Regions from separate parts of the Homo sapiens genome. Here region 2 is linked to region 1. The links come from fine-mapping of genetic effects on gene expression. A gene starts in region 1. The other region holds a variant in brackets. All regions are shown on one strand. Distances are between the middles of the regions.

Region 1 (9,631 bases):
CAACTGCCCAACAGATGGAGCTGAAGGCAGGACCCTCATGCCCTGGCCTCCCTCTGCCTTGCCCGCCTCTCCAGCCAACCATCCTTCAAGCCCAACCCTGCTCTCACCAAAGTAGATGAGGTTGCGGGGACTATGGCGGAAGGCAGTGCCTGTGGCTCTGGCAGAGACACTGGCCCTGCGGGTGAGCAGGGCACGCACCAGGTTCACATTCTGGTTCACAACAGCGATGTGCAGTGCAGTCTGACCTGGCCCAGAGACAGCCATCATCAGGGTCTCCCTCTGTCCCCAGTTCTCTCAGGGACACAGCATCCCCCACCATCCCTCTCAGGAGGTTCCTGATAGATCTTTGCTAGACTTCTGCCCTGGGCTTGGCAGGGTGGCCTGGGACTAAGAGCAATTCATCCCTCAGGCTGCCCTGCTCATTGACCTACCCTTCAGTTATTGGGAGCCAGCAGGGGATTGCTATGAATATAATCATTCTCATGTTGCTATGAGAGAAAGAAATTGAGATAGGTCCTACAGGGACTATGGGAGGTTTGAAAGGAAATGCTGAAGGAAGCCACAGATTGGTAAAAGCCAAGACCAGGACCTTTGCATTTCTCCCAACTCAACGGAGCCCATCCTCCTGACCCTCCATCACCCCACCCCAACCCATCCTTCAGAGGCCAATTTTAAGAGACAACAGCACACCCTCCATCTCAAAGTTTCCACCTTGAATTACCATGTAGGCTCCTTACCTGCAAAAGCCTCACATGTGGTGGGCTCAAAGACCAGCTCTGGGGCAGCCTCCATCAGCACCAAGGCCGCCTCCAAGTTGTCATAGAGGGCTGCTATGTGCAGCGCCGTCTCCCCCAGGGCTCCTGGATTGGAGTAAGACAGAGATGTTAGACACTTTTCAGATTCCCTTGAGGAAGGGGCCTCAGGCTCCAGAGACACCCTCCAAGGCCCTATTTCACAAACTCGAAGTCTTGGGGAGGAGGAGTAGGTTCTTCTGCCCCCACCTCCATCCCATTAAATCCAGATCCCACCTCTTTGTCGAACGTCACAGGTGCAGTCCAGTAGAAGTTGCCTAAGAACAGACAGGTCATTTTCCTTGGATGCTCGAAGCAGTGGAGACTCTAGAATCCTGGGGAAAGGTGAACGTGAGTTTGGAAGAGACAGTCATAGCAGAATGAGGCCAAGAGCAAAGGGGATCTAAGACATTCTTTAAGACCAACGTGACTCACACAGCGTGCAGTGACAAATTGGAAAGAAGTGCCTACTGGACTCGAATGACCGAGGGTGGACTTGGGCAAGGGTCAGCCCCAGGGCCTTCCTTGCAATTCACATCATGGTGATTCTCCTGTGAGGATGGCCCTTGAAGCTCTGCTGGAGGGGAAGAGTTAATAGGAAGAGAACCTGTAGTCTGGAAAGAGTGGTCTGAGAGTCTCTAAGAAGAGGACCCTAGGCTTGGCTGAATTCATCTAACCTGAGTAACTGTCTCAGATCCTGGATAGTTGGAGAGCGGGACAGAGGGCACTTCCATCTGCGGTCCCCCTGCTCCTGGGCCTGCTGAATCTACTGTCTTTAACCAAGGGGAGTTTGGGAGACCAAAACACAGAGGGAGGAGGAATGGATCGACTGCTAGATCTTTCCTAGGCATTTTGAAATTTGTGAAATTTGTGAGGCACTAAAGTTCTGACTACTCCCTCAGGCTATTTTTTTTTTTTTTTTTTTTTTTGAGACAGAGTCTTGCTCTGTTGCCTAGGCTGGAGTGCAGTGGTACAATCTCAGCTTACCGCAGCCTCTGCCTCCCAGGTTCAAGCAATTCTTGTGCCTCAGTCTCCCGAGTAGCTGGGATTACAGGCACGCACCACCACGCCCAGCTAATTTTTTGTATTTTTAGTAGAGATGGGGTTTTGCCATGTTGGCCAGGCTGATCTCGAACTCCTGAGCTCAGGCAATCCGCCTGCCTTGGCCTCCCAAAGTGCTGGGATTACATTGCGCCCAGCATCCTCAGGTTATTTAGATACAGGTCCCTGCAGGGGGTGGAGAGTTGTGGGGTGAGTTACAGGGTGCCTCTTTCTTCTGCATTATACCCTTAGATGCAAAGGTCTAAACAGCTTGTTTATGTGGGTGTCTCAAGGCAAAACAGGTTGAGATACTCATTCTACAGGACCTCTGTTAATCTTTGCTTCTACCATACCCAGATTTGAACCCAGAAAGAGATAAAGCTGGAGCCTCTCCAACTAGACATATGTGTATTGGCCCCAAAGGCAAGCACATGGTGTAGGGGGAAGAACAGAAAGGACAGGCCGATGAGTGGCTCCTCTGAGGTCCCCACCTCCAAATCCCTCTCTTCCAATAGCCCCAGGAGCCAGGGCGAAAAAGTGTTTTTATTTTATTTATTTATTTTTTTTGAGACGAAGTCTCACTCTATTGCCCAGACTGGAGTGCAGTGGTGCGATCTCGGCTCACTGCAACTTCCGCCTCCTGGGTTCAAGTGATTCTCCTGCCTCAGCCTCCCGAGTAGCTGGGACTACAGGTGCCCACCACCATGCCTGACTAGTTTTTTTATTTTTGGTAGAGACGGGGTTTCAGCATGTTGGCCAGGCTGCTCTCGAACTCCTGACCTCAGGTGATCCACCCATCTCGGCCTCCCAAAGTGCTGGGATTACAGGTGTGAGCCACCACGCCCAGCCAAAGTGTTTTCATTTAAAGAAGAAGCTTTTAATCTAAAGGTGGGGCCTGGTTTTACCTGTTAAGGCAGTGCTCCTAGGAGGGGCCTTTGTGAGGAGTCAGTTCCCTGCCCCGTCTCACCCAGGGAATCAGTCCCAGGGAGCCTGGTGTCCCTGACCAGCCTAGAGTGGTCAGGGCTGAGATTGCAAATTCACCCCCATCCTGAGGCCACTGCACAAACAAAGTCCTTGCCTCCCTGGCCCTCTATCCCCACTGCCCCTCTGCAGAGGGTCCAAGTTGGGGCTGGAAGCTCACTTTCTCAGAGACCCAGGGGTCCCACTCTAAAGCAGGAAGGTGAGATTCCACTGGAGGTATTGGGTGGGGAGATGAGGAAGCAGAGGGCTTGACAGTATGAGGGCTCAGAGGTACTTGGGACCAGGCCCAGTGTAAACTGCAAATGCAGGACCCCTTGTTCAAAATTATTAAGAACTTGAAGATGAGGACAGCAGGGCATTGAACAAAGCACAGGAATCTTCTGGAGTACAGGGGAGCCCTTTGTGACTGCTAATGTCTGCTCAACAACCTCACCCCTCAGGCAGCTGTTGGGTGGGAGGCAAGCCCCAAAACACTTGGAGGAAGAAGCAGCCCACAGGATTCGTCCCTGCCCCAGCTGCTCTTCCTGGGACTGGACCTCAGGGCTAAGCCATGAAATGATTTACCTGCAGGTGTGCTAGCCCTGCCCGAACTAAGAGCTCTCCAGGAGCAGGCACAAGTCTCATTCAATCTTTATGTCATTGGGATCTAACACCCCTCTGCACACAGTAGACTCAATAAAAGGCAGATGGACTGAACTCAGAGCCCTCCAGTGTCACCTGAGCTGCCCTCCTCCACTGGTCAGCACCCAGTGTTACACCAAACAAAGCGCTCCTCCCCTTTCCCACACAGTCCACTTTCATTCAAATGAATGGCGTTTCCTTATCGTGCTTCCACCACCCACAGGAGTGCATCCCTTCTTCAGCAGCCTGCTTCTGCCTTCCCTCCCCATCCCACACAACCTGGCTTCTTCCCTCTGGTCCTTTTTGGTCCTTTCACTCCCCCTTGGCTGTCATTCTGCCTCTGTCCTTAGGTCTACCCTCAAGATTTTCCTGTGTGGCCCAAAGCCACATCCTCCACCGCCACTAAAAGGGGCCAGCTGGGATTCTGTAATTAGGTGGGCTGGAAGGAAAGGGTATGTCTGAGTGACTGGCACTGACAATACACTTCTAGGGTGCTGTATTCGGAAAGCAGGCCCAGGTGGGTCAGAGGGTCTGAGGATCACGGCGGTAGGGCCACGGATCGTTCTAGGAAGCCTACCTCTTCTGCTGCAGCATATGAAGCTTGTCCAGGTGCTGGTCCCAGTCTTGTTCTCTGACCAGAAAGGAGGGCAGAAGTTTCTGGAGTTGGCTCCCGGGCCCTTCTGCCTTAGGTAGAAAACCCCCCATGTCTTCTCCTTGCAGACACTGGCAGATTATAGAAATGTGGCGAAAGAAACAGGTCTAGGATGACAGCAACTGAGCAAGAGATGGGGTCTATTTGGGGCTGGGACTCTGAGTTTATCTCCTGTATGACTTGTGTATGCAGCATGCAGCTTGTAGGTGTGTGTGTGTGCATGCAGTATGTGGGTTGTGGGGTGTGCGTGTATGCACAGTGTGTGGCTGTGGTGTATGTGTGTGCATGCAGTGTGTGGTTGTGAGGTGGTGTGTGTGCATGCAGGTGCGCTGAGGGGACTGACCGCCCTGCCTGGGGAGAAGTGCTTTTCCTGGAGGGGGAGGAGCTCTTTGCAGAGCTGAGCCCCACAGCCACAGAACCACCCTGGGGAAGAAAAGGAGGAGGGGAAGGAAGGTTCCTAACTGTGGGCTGGGATGGCTGAGACCCGAGAAGCTAAGAGGTGGGGCAGAGGAATTTGGAAAAAGAAAAGGGATGGAAGGTGGGTCCACAAACAAGGTGCACAGTTAGTTGCATGAGGGAGAGGAGGAAATAAAGACTTCCAGCTCAAGAGTCAGGCAGAGCCTGGTTCAAATCCTGACTCTTATCCCTTACAGTTAGGTGAGCTTTCTGAGCCTCAGTTCCTAACCTGTGAAATTGGGGTAACGGCTATGCCGTCTCACGGGAGCATCTGTAAAGCATGTGTCACAAGTACTCAATCACTGCCGATCCTCCTTCCACAAGAGGGCTCAAGAGACCCCCGGGCTGCTTCTCAGAGCTTCCCATTTATGTGTCTTGTGGTCATCTCTGTCCTCAACCCTGTACCTCAAAGGAGGGTTTCTGACCCCCACTTCCCAGGCCAATCCCTCTCTGTGAGAAGTCCTCATGACCGTGACCGGCCAGCTTCCTGGAGCGTCGCCGAGCAGGCTCTGGTACCTGGGGACGCAGGTCAGAGGAGCCCCCAGGGGCCTCGAGTTATTATGGAGGTTGAACAGCAGAAACTGAGCAAAGGTAGACGACAAATAAATCGTGATTCCATGTTTGGGACTCTTTCCAGGAATGAAACACCAGGAGGAATAAGTAATGTTGCACTATTTTATATATTTTATATTATATTTTATATATTAAGTAGTTTCCCTTATCCACAGTTTCACTCTCTGATGGTTCAGTTACCTAAGGTCAGCCACAGTTGGAAAATAGGTGAGTACAGTACTATAACATATTTTGAGAGACAGAGAGAAAGAGAACATTCACATAACTTTATATTATTATAATTTTCATTTTATTGTTGTTAAACTCTTTTTTTTTTTTTTTTGAGACAGAGTTTCACTTTCGTTGCCCAGGCTGGAGAGCAATGGTGTGATCTTGGCTCACTGCAACATCCACCTTCCAGGTTCAAGTTATTCTCCTGCCGCAGCCTCCCTAGTAGCTGGGATTACAGGTGCCCACCACCACGCCTGGCTAATTTTTGTATTTTTAGTAGAGACAGGGTTTTACCATGTTGGCCAGGCTAGTCTCGAACTCCTGACCTCAGGTGATCTGCTTGCCTCGGCCTCCTGAAGTGCTGGGATTACAGGCGTGAGTCACTATGCCCGGCCTAAACTCTTCACTGTGCCTAATGTATAAATTAAACTTCATCATATGTATGTATGTATGTATGTATGTATGTATGTATGTATGTATGTATGTACGTGTAGGAAAAAAGATAGTATATACAGGGTTTGGTGCTATCTAAGGTTCCTGGCATCCACTGGGGCGTCTTGGAATGTATCCCCTGAGGATAAAAGGTGACTACTGTATATGATAGCTTGTATTTATGTTCTCATTTTTTTTATTATTATACTTTAAGTTCTAGGGTACATGTGCACAATATGCAGGTTTGTTACATATGTATACATGTGCCATGTTGGTGTGCTGCACCCATTAACTGTCATTTACATTAGGTATATCTCCTAATGTATCCCTCCCCCCTCCCCCAACCCCACGACAGGTCCTGGTGTGTGATGTTCCCCTTCCTGTGTCCAAGTGTTCTCATTGTTCAATTCTGTTCTCATTGTTTTCAAAGAGGTACATCAATATTATTGAATTGCATTCACTCAATAGACCTATCAGGTAAATGAGAACAAGGAAGAATTCCGTCTGTGAGAATTCTTGGGTGTGCTGGCCCCAAGTCCCATGGCTAGTGGCGAGACTGTAACTGGCCATGAACTTGGGATCTCAGCTCCAAACCACTCTCCAGACCTTGTTGCTTCTTGGGAATCTTTTGGCTGTAAAGGTGTGAGAGACCAGCGTGAGGATACGCTGGGACTCTCCCTCTGGGGGTCTTGAGGAGTGGGGACTGCCCCCTTCTTTTGTTGTAAGAAAGAGAGATCTGCTCCCAAGATTGAGGGATGGACAAAATAACCTTTAGAGAAGGACAAGAATTGAAAGGAAAATAAATAAGGAAACTAAGAGGAGCTAGTGTTCATTGATGTTTCAAAAGGGGGAAAATTTGGATCTTTTTCTTATTAAAAGCCAAAAGGAAAAGTTAAGTAAAAAAAAAAAAAGATACAGTGGAATTATGTTCTCACTGGGAGTGGGGAGGGCTCAACTTGTGGGACATTTTTCTGCCTCGCTGGGGGTGACGCCCTTGTGGAGTGACTTCCAGTCTAAGGAGATGGAGGGAGCGATAAGGGTGAGGTGGGGGTTGTAGATGCCTTGATAAGCGAGGCAGGTCAGGAAAGGAGCACCTGCCAAGGAAACTACAACCCATAAAGCTGGTCCTGGGGCGGGGGGGTTGGGACATGGGGGGCCGGCAGGGGAGGAGGCTGGCCCAGTCTGAGCTGCACAGAGCAGGTGTGCAGGGACTTGCCGCCAAGGGCATGTCCAGGGGTCTGGGGAAGAGAAAGGGGAGGCCCAATGCTCAGGCCCCCCCACCCGCCATCCCTGGGCCTTCGCCCTCTCACTTGCCCTTCTCTGCCTACCTCGTCCTCTCCAGTGGGAAGGGCATGGACAAGTAACCTGGGTGAGGACCATGGTGTCCCCCGGCAGTCCCAGCTGGTAGACCAGAGATTTGGAGTCTCTCCTGTTCTCTCCTTGCCTTCTCTCCAGACTGTTTCTTCCTCTTGTGATATTCGACATCACCATTCTATTTTTCCTTTTCTCTCCTTTCTTTTCATGCCTCTCTCAGCTTTCTGCAAGTGAGGACATCTGCAAACTCTCGCCTTCAGAGAGCAGCTTCCCTGCCACTGATGAATGGTCAGTAATGCCTCCAGGCACTCGGGAGAACTGGGCTGGGGGCACCAAACTACACCGTCAAGTCCCAGAACCCTTCACGCCAAAGCAGCCTGACCTCTTATTCTAACATAATAAAGAGGAGGAGGAACCATAATACCTAGATTTCCATTTTTAAAAATTACACTCCCACCCTACGTGGCCACAGCCATCTACGAAAAGGATTCAGGGCCGGATGCGGTGGCTCATGCCTGTAATCCCAGCACTTTGGGAGGCCGAGGCGGGCGCCTCACGAGGTCAGGAGTTCGAGACCAGCCTGGCCAACATAGTGAAACTCCGTCTCTACAAAAAAAAATTAGCTGGGCCTGGTGGCAGGCACATGCAATCCCAGCTACTCAGAAGGCTGAGGCAGGAGAATCACTTGAACCCGGGAGGTGGAGGTTGCAGTGAGCTGAAATTGCGCCTTTGCACTCCAGCCCAGGCAACAGTATGAGAGACTCCATCTCAAAAAAAAAAAAATAGAAAGAAAGAAAAGGATTCAAATACCATACCTTAAAACTAACTGTGGCCAGGCGCAGTGGCTCACACCGGTAATCCCAGCACTTTGGGAGGCCGAGGCGGGCAGATCACCTGAGGTAGGGAGTTCGAGACCTTCCTGACCAACAGAAAGAAACCCTTTCTCTATTAAAAATACAAAATTAGCTGGGTGTGGTGGCACATGCCTGTAATTCCAGCTACTCGGGAGGCTGAGACAGGAGAATCACTTGAACCCAGGAGGTGGAGGTTGTAGGTGAGCTGAGATCGTGCCATTGCCCTCCCGTCTGGGCAACAAGAGTGAGACTCCATCTCAAAAAAAAAAAAGTGATTATCACTGGATGGTGGAATTATTAGCCTTTTTGGGGTTTTGTATTTTTCTATATTTTCTACTTTGTAATAAGAAAAAATATTTAAGGGATTCCCTGTTTTCTGCAAGAATTTATCTCTTTTAACACTGCGGAGGTCAGGCGGGTGGTGGTGGCAAGGAAATGGAAGTAATGGAAACAACTCAGTTATTTCCACTCAAGCCTGCCCGGGAGGCAATTCTCACCCCAGCCGCCCTCCCCATTCATTCCCACAGAGCTGGAGATGGCTTCTCTTTTTGCCAGGAAACCAAGAGGCTGCTCCCCCAAAATAGCCAGGAGGGAGGAGATTAGTGATGGTTTTTTCCATTCAAGCATCATTCTTTGGATCTCACGTCAATGGGTTCAAGGTGGGGTGAGCAGGGTCACCTGCCTACTTGAATCTTTCCTTACTCACCTTCAAGCGACCTCCGTACCACTCCCTAGTCCCTTGTCATCTGGCTTGGACCATCAGGAAGTGTGTAAGAGATGGTGTCTGCTGTATGTGAGACAGCATCCATGTGGGCATGTCTGCTAACACGAGTAAACTCTGTGGGAAAGCATCTCTTTGTGTGTTTCTGTCTGCAGTTCCCTCTTGCAGAAAGGGTGCCTGTCTCCGCAGTGTCCTTGGACCTGCATGTGGTATTTCATTCAGGTCTGGTATGCATGGATGAGCAGGAGCAGTGTGAACTGGTTATGAGAGTTCAGGAGTGACTAAAGTCTTCTCTTACCTGTCTTAGCAGCCATCCTGCATCTAATGGCCTATGTCTCTGTTGCTGGTTTTCGAAAAAAGGCCTTCATTCTGTCTCCCTAACTCACAACCCTCCAACCATCTCTGCCCAAGAAGCAGTTGGGGGTGATTACCCACAGCCGGTTACTGCCAACAGATCTGTGCTCACCAGGCTCATGGGCAGGAGGCGCATCCAAGTACTGAGGCAGGATTCTCCCAGATCTGTTATTTGGGATCCTAGACTCCCTGCCGCACTGCGGCTTCTCTGCAGACTCTAACTCCTTTTGCCAAGCAATGAGGTTGGAGATGAGCCTCTAACAACCTTTTCTTTCGTCTAAGAGTACAGAAAGGTGTAAAATGAAAGAAGAGGGTGTTTCAACCTGGTGGTACAAGAGGACAAAGGCTAGAAAAGTGGGAAAACCAGGGGAGGGTGAAGAGAGGGTGTGAATGGGCTCTACCAGCTGCAAGGCACCCTGCTCTTTGTCTCTCGCTCTCTCTCCGTTCACTCTCTCTTCATCTGTCTCTCTGTCTCTGCGTCTCTATCTCTCTGTCTCTACCCCTCAGTTTCTGCCTGTCTCGGTCTCTTTCTTTCTCTCTTTTTCTATGTCTCTGTCTGTCTCTGCCTGTCTATGCCTGTCTCTGTCTCTGTGTCTTTTATACACACACACAGCATGTGCTTTTACCCATC
Region 2 (9,631 bases), 27 kb before region 1:
TCAGTGGGAGGCCAGTAGACAATGGGATTTACTCTTAAGAAGTTTGGCCCTGAACAGGGAGTAGCTGAAAGAAGAGGTGGGGTTGAGGGAGGGAGTTTGCAGTTTCTTCGAAAATGCAAAAGAATAGAGCATGCTTATTTGCTGACAGAGCTACCAGAGAAGGAGAAGTTGAAGATACACACGTGAGAGGGGTCAGAGGAGACAGTGATGGACACAGGGTGTGAAAAGACAGAGTGAGGAATGGATCTAGAACACAGATGGGAGTTTAGCTTTGCACAGGAGTGGAAGTTGTAAACTGAGAAAAAGATGTCTGAGACAAGTCTCGATCAATTTACAGGTTTATTTTGCAAGGTTGAGGACACAGGAAAAAGAGACACAGGCCACAGTAAGATCTGAGGCCTGCACTTTTTCCAAAGTGGGTTTTGAAGGCTTCAATATTTAAAGGGGTTAAGTGGCCAGGAGGGGAAGGAGAAAAGTTAAAGAAAAGTGGCGGAGAGTAGACAAGTGGTTACATTCTTTTGAGGCTTTGATTAGTGCTCACTGAATCCACATGTTGCATGTGAGAAGCAGGGGACAGAGGAACAGTCATTTATGTATTTGTGTCATGCTCAGTAAATCTGCACTTTACATAAGACAAAGTAAATTAGAGGAAGAAGTCAAATATGCCTTCATCCCAGGGTAGGAGGAGGGACGATTTCTATTCTTCTCTTCTCCTGTACCCGTGAAGATAAACTGTTAATTTATAATGTCAGGGTGAAGGAGGCCATCTGGGGAGCTAATGTGGCCTTCTGTCTTGAGGCTATCTGTTTAGGAACAAAAAGACAGGCAGTTTCCAAACTTTTTGGAAGAAAGGCAACTTCCAAAAGTTTGACTCAGTTTCCAAACTTAACTTTTCCCTTTCACATAGTGAGTTTGAGGTCCCAAGATGTTATTTTCCTTTCACATCCTCCCACCCTGTTCTTCCAAATCTTTCAGGGAAAGCATTGTAGAAGAAAGTGAGTGTCTGATCTCAGGTTTGGTCTGATCCCTTGTCACTAGGACAGTTTATTTCTAGAGGGTTAGGTCCCTCATTTTAGAAAGGATCATTCTTAGCAGGTTGTGAAGTTTCATGTTCCACAGAGAAAAATAGGGGAAAGAAGAGAGAAAGAAAACCAGTAGAAAAGGAGGAAAGATCATGACAACAAAAGGGGAAAGTAATCCTGGAAAACTGATTTAGGCTATATTGCTCTGAAGTCCATGAATGAGTAGGCAGGCACAAAAGTGGTTTATATATATAAATAATTTGCTGTTACTTTTCCCAAAGTTTAAGTTTCAAGTTTCACTTGGCAGAACTTTAAGAAAAGCACAGTTTTAATTTTAATTTAATTTTAAATTAAAATTTCTAGTTTTAATTTCTAGATTCCAAATGAGAAAAAAAAGGGAAAAAATGAAAGAAAAAGGAAAAAAAAAATGAACAGTAGTTTGGAGACTTGTAGCCAGGAAAGGACTTAGGATTCAGTCCAAATGCATTTTAACAAAGAATGAAACTGAGAAACAATTGATAAGGTGGGGTCTAAGAAGAGGTGTTTTATATGTTTTTTTAAAAAAAAAAAAAAACATAATTTTTATCTCAGTCCTCCATTTTTATCAAAGACAAATCATAGTAGGACTAATTTATTTGTAGAAAAGCTTTAGTTGTATTATACTTCACCTGATTCTTTGTATAAAGTGCAGCAAGAATAATTATTTTCTATTTAGGCTTTTTTAAAATTGACTTTGCTGGAAACTTTTTTATTTAAGGAATCTTAGTTTAGACTTTTTAAAGGCCCCAAGCCCAGTCAAGAATTTATTTGTGCCTGCAGATATCTGTATGAACTGGGCGAATGCCTCTCTTCTTAATCCCAAGATAACTTGGGGTTCCCGGGCCTGCCAGAAAGTAACGTTCTTTACTTATCACAGGTTGGGAACCCTGTAAAAGAATTGTGTAGGCAAGGTACAAGGCCAGTTTTTTTAAGGATCTTTTATTGGCTCTATAAGTCAATGGCAATTCCTTAAAACAGTTTGTTGTTTTGTTTATAGCTTAAAATATTTCATTCTAGTCAAAGCTTTAGTAAAATAATAGTCTCCAATTGTGTCCTGTTACAAAAGAAAGCAGATTCTTATTGAGCTCATACAAATAACTATATTGTTATAAATTAAGAATACTCAAAAATAGTTTTCAAATTCTGGAGAAATCAGGTAGAGAGAAAGAAATATGCTTTAAATTTTGCTCACAAGAGCATATTTTACTCAATTGTTAAAAGCTGTAAACAACCCAAAAAATGAAAAGAATCACCAATGTTTCAGACAAAAAGATCACACAAAAAATTATTTTAGTCTTCTATTAGCTCAGTTCATGCAATTAACCTCTGTTCTATTTGATATTGGGTCAACAATCCTCATGAATACATCAGATCTCCAGGAGTGTCCTGGAAGATTTTTTTCCTCTATTTTAATGGCACAATCTCCAAAGCTGTCAGAAACCTGCATTTAAAAGTATCCATCTGATACAGTTTGGCTTTGTGTCCCCACCCAAATCTCATCTTGAATTGTAATCCCATAATCCCCACATGTGGTGGGAGGGACCCAGTGAAAGGTAATTGAATCATGGGGGGCAGTTCCCCCCATGTTGTTCTCATGCTAGTGAGTTCTAATGAGAACTCACTCATTCAGTGAGTTGCCCACTGTACTCTAGCATGGGCAACAGATGGTTTTATATGGGGCTACCCACTTTGCTTGGCACTTATTCTCTCTCCTGGCACCCTGTGAAGAGGTGATTCTCCAGTGATTCTAAGTTTCCTGAGGCTTCCCCAGTCATGCAGAACTGTGAATCAATTAAACTTTTCTTTATAATTTACCCAGTCTCAAGTATCTCTTCATAGCAGCATGGGAATGAACTAATACACCATCAGAGTCCTATAACTGATTATAAGCAACTTTTTGAAAAGGAACAAAGTAAAATAATAATTGTGAATGACAAAAGATATCCACAGTCAAAGATATAATTGACAAGGAAATCTGGTTATTTCTGTGGCACACAATAATTTACCATAATTATAATTATTACTGATCACATATACCAAGACATATTAAAATTATAAGAATATTATACAATTTTGGAACACATAACAATAGCACATTTATATAAATATATTTCAAAGAAAGTTACACACCATTTTATACTTGGCAATGCCTCCTGTATGATTTTAACATATCAAATAAGCCAAATATGCCTCTGTTGGACATTTAAAAGTCAGTTTGAGGTTAAAAGACTGCATTTAGAATTTAATCTTGGAAAGTTAGTCCAACATTAAAAGTTTAAAGCACTTGATATCGCAAAATGAGATTACAGGTCATTATAATCATTTAGCTAAAGTGATAACTCACCAATTTTAAAAAAAAGCAGAAATCTTTACTCCTTGATAAAGAAGACCTCAGTTTTCTAAAAAATAGGACCTAATAGAGACAGTGTGAAGCCAACTGAATCTGTCTCTCCTCTCCTTCTTCTTTAATTTTTTTGGCAGTTTATTCAAAGGGCAAATGAAAATCTTTTACTATCTCTTAATATTATACAAAAATCTTATTTAAAAGAGAAAACCAAATTTTATTTTTGTATTACTGTATTGTTAATTCTAAAGCTTTAATAGAATCTTATAAGCAAATCTACCAAATTTTAATTAGTTTGATTGTAAGGTAAGATTTCCATGAGGCTTTTATAAACTTTACAAATTTGTGTTAAAGAACACATCAATATTCCAAGAAAATCCTGCCTCACACAGGTGCTCAGATTCTGACCCTGCATCAATGTGCTATTTATATGAATGTTCAATTTGTATAATATCTAAATAATCCCCTTAAAATTTTAGCCAAACTTGATCACACACAAAATTCCTTTTACAAGATCAATCTTCCACAAACCTTCTACGACTTGCTTAAACCTTCAGTTTTGTCGTTTCTGTTAACTTGAAACAGTCCTTAAAATCCTCTAAACTAGAAAAAAACACTTTCTCTTAAAAAAGAACCACACTCCCATGACTTATTTTAACATTTGTTCTCCAAAAAAAAACACAGCCTACCTGTTTAATACACATTGTATGTACCTAGTAGTTTTAATTACATTCATTAATTTATAATGTTAACTCTTAGTAATTCTTATTTTAGTGAAAAACCTAGGCAGTAAGCAATTTTAATTACATACCAGGTGCACAAGCCAGGACAAAGGACAATACCTGGGGGCAGGCCAAGGGCTCAAATCAAAAGACATATAAGTTTATAGACAAGTTAAGCAAGTATTAAAAAGATTACAGGGCTAGTGCAGTGGCTCATGCTGTAATCCCAGCACTGTGGGAGGTCGAGGCAGGTGGATTGCTTGAGACCAGGAGTTCAAGACTAGCCATGGGCAACATGGCAAAACCCCATCTCTAAAAAAAATACAAAAATTAGCTGGGTGTGGTGGTGCACACCTGTAGTGCCACCTACTTGGGAGGCTGATGGGGGAAGATTACTTGAGCCCAGGAGGTCGAAGCTGCAGTAAGCAGTGATCACACCACTGTACTTCAGCATGGGCAACAGAGCAAGACCCTGTCTCAAGAAAAAAAAAAAAGGACTACAGAAGCAGAATTTTAAAGTGCTTCTACTATGAAGAGAATAAAGAAGAATGATGGTGACTGAGCAGTTTTACATACCCTGCCACCACTGTGTCCCAGTGTGTGCGGGCGTGTGTATACACATTGTGC[A/G]ATCCCTCACTGCTGGGCACTCAGCCCTGGGCTGGTGTATCTGAATTAACTGTCTGTGGTTTCACAAATACCACTTACTTCTTTGTTATCCCAGACCACAGTCCTTTGAAAAGCTGACATGGCTTTTTGCTAAGGGTGATGATGGGGCTGGGATTAGAAGTATAGTGCTGGAGACACAAGAGAGGCTGACCATGAGCACCTATAATGGGTGCCCTGGACACATGATTCCTAATTTCCCTCCTGGAGAGGGATGACCCTTCCTCTATTGTTGCTGTTCCTTTCACAACTCAGTGTGGGGCAAAGGGAGATGGGAATGGAGGATGGCTATGTCAGGAGAACAAGCAGGAGCCTGTTGCCTCCAGGCACAAGGATGATTAGCTGCTAGGGACAGAGCAGGAGGGTCCTGGAAAAGAAATGATTAGGCCATTCAAATATAGGCCTAATTTACCATACATTCTTAAAAACACACCAGGATGCAAACACTTCAGACTGTGAGCCTCAAAAAGCAAAGATAAGGCAATTCAACAACAACAAAAACCTAATTCGAAAATGGACAAATAAACTGAAAAGACATTTCTCCAAAGAAGGTATATAAACATCCAATAAATAGGTGTATAAAAACGTGCTCAGTATCATTAGTCATTAGGGAAAGGCAAATCAAAACTACAATGTGAAGCCACTTCACACCCATTAGAAGGGAATGTAAAATGGTGAAAGCTATTGTGAAAACCAGTATGGCAGTTCCTCATAAAACTAAACATAAGAATTGTCTAGCAATTCCATTTTTAGGTGTATGCCCAAAGTATCTGAAAATAGAAACTAGAACAGATATTTGTATACCATATTGATAGCAGCATTATTCACAACGGCCAAAAGGTAGAAAAAACTCAAATGTCCATTGGTAGATGAATAAATAAACAAACTGTGTCAAATTTTGGACTAAGATTGCAGAATCCCACTTACATAAGATACCTAGAATAGTTAAATTCATAGACAGAAAGCAGAATATTGGTTATCAGGGACCAGGGCAGAGAGATAGCTGGAGAGTTATTGTTCAATGGGGATTAGAGTTTCAGTTCCGAATGATGAAAAAGTTCCATAAATGAATAATGGTGATGGTTACACAACAATGTGAATGTACTTAATGCCACTGAATGGCACATCTGAAAATGGATAATATGGTAAATTTTATGTGACATGTATTGTGCCACAGTAAAAAATTAAAGAAGGCAAGAATAAGGAGACTTTTTTATTGCAGTTGGTGTTTGCTTGCTAAGTGGAGAGAGAGACCTACAGGAGGCTGGGAAAAAAAGAAGGGCCACAACCTCTATGCCATGCCTGGCTCTTCCCACGTAAGCCCTGGGGAGCCAGAAAAGCCTCACAGCTTACTACTTTCTAGGGGCTGCGTGGGGCAGAAGAGAAATGGTCCTGACATTAATCTAGCATCCCTGCCTCATGTCTTTAGTTGCCAACCTCCTTTTTCCTGAGATGGGTGACTTGCAAGAGCCCAGAAAATACGTGAGACAATCGATGACCATTGCCCATTGCCAGAAATTCTGATGTGAAGTGTGAGGCATGACCCTTTAGGGATTGTTCTGTCTCACCCTCCCATGATTAACAGGCACAGAAGTTAGACACTTGCATAGGCAGAGGTCTCCGTCTCTGTCCCCGCCCCCAGGCCAACCGGGAGTAAGGTCAAGAGTGATAGCGATGTTAATCAAAAATGGTAGACCTCCTCTCCATCCCCCTCACTAAGGTTCAGTCCAAGATTCAAGTGCCCCAGGGTGTTTTGACGAAGGATCTCCCAGCCTCGGTGACTGCTGCTCTGGGACGCGGTCCGGGACAGGGAGGAAGTTGGAAGAGCCAAAGAGGCTCTGGCTAGAGTCCCACTCTCAGCCCCAGAGGGCTGTTTCTCAGATGGATGCTCCTGGTCATCCTCCTTGTCTGAGTTCTTGAACACTTCCACATAGCGAAGCACTCGCAGAGGATTCTGATCATTGTGGTTCTCAACCCTGATAAGGGGAAAGGGGAAAGGACTCAATCCAGGTGGGGAGACATGGGCAGGGGAGAAGTAGAGGTGACCATTTAGAAAGCAGGGTCAAGAGGGAAGCAGAAATAAGGCAGCAGAGTTGAAACAGGAAGAGTATCTGGGATCAAGTGAAGGGAGGTGATGGAGGGCAGGCTAACCTGGGATAGAGATAATGGAGGCTGAGCAATCAGGGCTTGCAGGGTGGTAGGACGCACACAGGTGTGTGTGTGTTTGTGTGTTACTAATACGTAGGAATGTGAAAGAGAAAACAGAGCCAACTAATAGATAAGCGTGTCACAAGGATGACGAGATGCAATTCAGGAAGTAAATTTGAGGAGAGAGGAGAGTCACGCCGGGAGATGAGGGCAGAATATGAAGGAGGAAGTTAGATCCAAGCCAAAAGTACACTGGAGATGAAGGTCAGCTCAGAACAAGGTTACAGCAAGTCTGGTAACCCATGCTGACGTCTGAGCATGGACACATGCACACAACCTTTTACACGTGGCTGCCCTGAGGTACACACAGCATTCTTCGTACCCCTCCACTTCAGCTCCAGCCCCCTCCCCTAGACAGGCTAATGTAGGCTCCAGGACGCCTGTCGGTCACCCTTGCTTCCGTGGCCTTATACACATCTGCAGTTTTGCATGTGCACACCATCACTCACCGCAGGAACCAGCGGTCCCCCAGCCCGAATTCGCACCCACAGATCCCGGAGCGAGGCCACAGGCAGCGAGGCAGCTTCCGCTCCAGCATCACTGTGGTGGCCACGACCTGGAAGGAGGCAGGAGATACAGGAAGAACTCTGAAAGAGCCATGAGGTTCAAAGAGGCACTGAGGCCACTGATAAAGGGAACCAAAGGCAATCTGTGAGATAGGACACTAGAGGTCAGTGGTGAGAACAGCCACCTATTCACCCCACAGCCTGTGCCAGGCACCATGCAACCAGCTTCACTCATCAAGAAATGAGAGAGGATTTTTTGTGAGTGTTTTGAATAAAATAGTTGCCCTTACATTACTATTCACTCATGGAGAATGAGTCACTCCAAACTAATCTCAACTTCTTTTTCATATAAAAGCCACAGACCAATTATCTCGATTTAAATAAAATGATTAAAGAGAATCTCTACGATCTTGGGGATGAATTGATACTGTTACTGTTCAGGGAATTTTCAGCAAATTAAATATCCACATCTTAGGAAGGAAAAGGGTTGATTAATGACTGCAAGTTGGCAGGGAAATTTCTGGTAGCAAGTCCACCACACGTTCTGTCCTTTGCTCAGCCCTCATTAATTACTTAGATGAAACATGGGAAACAAGCTTATCAAATATGCCTGTGACACAAAACTGGGAGGGATATGTAATATGTGGGGCAACAGAAGCAATATAAAATTATCTCGCTAGATTGGAATGCTGGTGTAAAATCATTAACAAGAAATTTAAGTAAACCAAATCTAAGGTCCTATATTTACATTTAGGAAGCTTAGATAAGTGAGTCATAGAACAAAGGTGTGGGAGTGCTAGCTGATCACAAGCTTAATAAGGGCCATTTGTATATTTGCTAAAAGACCTGACTCAGCTTTAGGTACCCTTAGCATTATGTCCAAGTAAGGAAAGGCATAGTCCCGCTTTGTACCGCATTGCCCTAATCATACTGGGGACTATTCTAGTTTCAAAGAAACCATGATCTATTAGAGCATGGACAAAAGGGTGCAATCAGAATAGATCAGAACCAGGAAGGCTTCCTAATTGAAGGAGTGCAATCTTCAAAATAGCAAATTCTTCACCTCATGTTTTTCTACTCCCTATCTTCCTCATTACTCCACACTTCTTTCAGTTTCTTAATTGCACCAAGTTCCCTCCTAGCTCAGGACTTCCAGTCATTCTGTGCTCTTACCCTGGATAGCTGTTCTTCTTTGCCTTGAAAGAAATGTTTATTGTTCCTCCTGAGCCATCATGCAGCCCCGTCCTTCCTCGGGTAACAGCACCCATTTTTCATTTAGGGAATTGCTCCCTCATCACTTTTAGTGCATTGGTTTGAGTGGACTGGGCTTCACACAGTTGTGCTTAATTAATCTATTTTCCCCCAAACCTCCCCTCCACCACCATCACCAACACCTCCACTATCTAGTCCTTGGTCTTTCCTTAGATTCAACGATGTGCCTATGACCCGAATGTGTTCCCATGAGATGGAACATGGAAGGAATTGGCAGGGGGAAAGATGTTCTTTTAAAGCCTGCAGTTTTGCCTGGCACCAGGAGCCTCACAGAATACAACGTGAGTGGGGCCCTCGGAGCTGCGTGTTGCATTGCACATCCTCATTCTTTTTGGAGTTTGGAGCTTCTAGAAATGATCTCACAAACACGATGGGAGAGCTTGCCTTAGAAGAGAGGTCAAAAGAGAGCCGAACAGAGGAATGGATGTAATGTATAAGATGTGGATCTGCATTCTGGCCAGATACCTCTAAAGTTAGTTTAATTCTCTAAACTTCCCATTTATGAGGACTAACACATCCTCTTCCCCCTGTTTAAAAATCTGCAAGTCTGTTTGAGTTTGGTTTTCTGTCCCTGTAGCCAAGAGTCCTAATTGCTACTAACCTTGACCTTCATCCTTTTCCCTCCTTCCTTTTAACTACCTAGTTCTTGCTCACCTTTGGGTTCTCATCTTAAATGTTGCTCCCTCAGGAAAGCATGTCTTCACTTCCCAGTCCGATTCCTCTGTTGTATCCTCCTCTTAGCACCTTACATTCTCTATAGCACTTTTGCTGCTGTAATTTTACAGCTTTTTGTGAAGTCATTCACTTCATGCCCGTCTTTCCAACTAAACCGTCAGCTCCATGAGGGCACATATG

Evidence for each region. PIP is the estimated chance that this variant, and not a neighbour inherited with it, causes the effect.
Region 2: its variant is fine-mapped to the expression of TRPV5 in monocytes (TOPMed, PIP above 0.99).

The regions. Positions count from the first base shown.
Region 1 is chr7:142,929,321-142,938,951 of GRCh38, forward strand. It overlaps TRPV5 (transient receptor potential cation channel subfamily V member 5), which reads right to left and starts at 4,426. Exons shown (of 15, transcript NM_019841.7): 1 at 4,012-4,426; 2 at 1,029-1,126; 3 at 738-860; 4 at 108-245. The coding sequence starts at 4,139. It overlaps LOC105375542 (a long non-coding RNA gene), which reads right to left and starts at 7,630. Exons shown (of 2, transcript XR_928065.1): 1 at 7,086-7,630; 2 at 6,407-6,526.
Region 2 is chr7:142,902,043-142,911,673 of GRCh38, forward strand. It overlaps TRPV5 (transient receptor potential cation channel subfamily V member 5), which reads right to left. Exons shown (of 15, transcript NM_019841.7): 14 at 7,448-7,554; 15 at 6,059-6,766. The coding sequence ends at 6,472. Among named protein-coding and RNA genes, the nearest start is that of TRPV6, 21 kb to the left of the region's middle. RefSeq lists a silencer at 1-65. The variant A/G (reference allele first, on the strand shown) is at 4,755.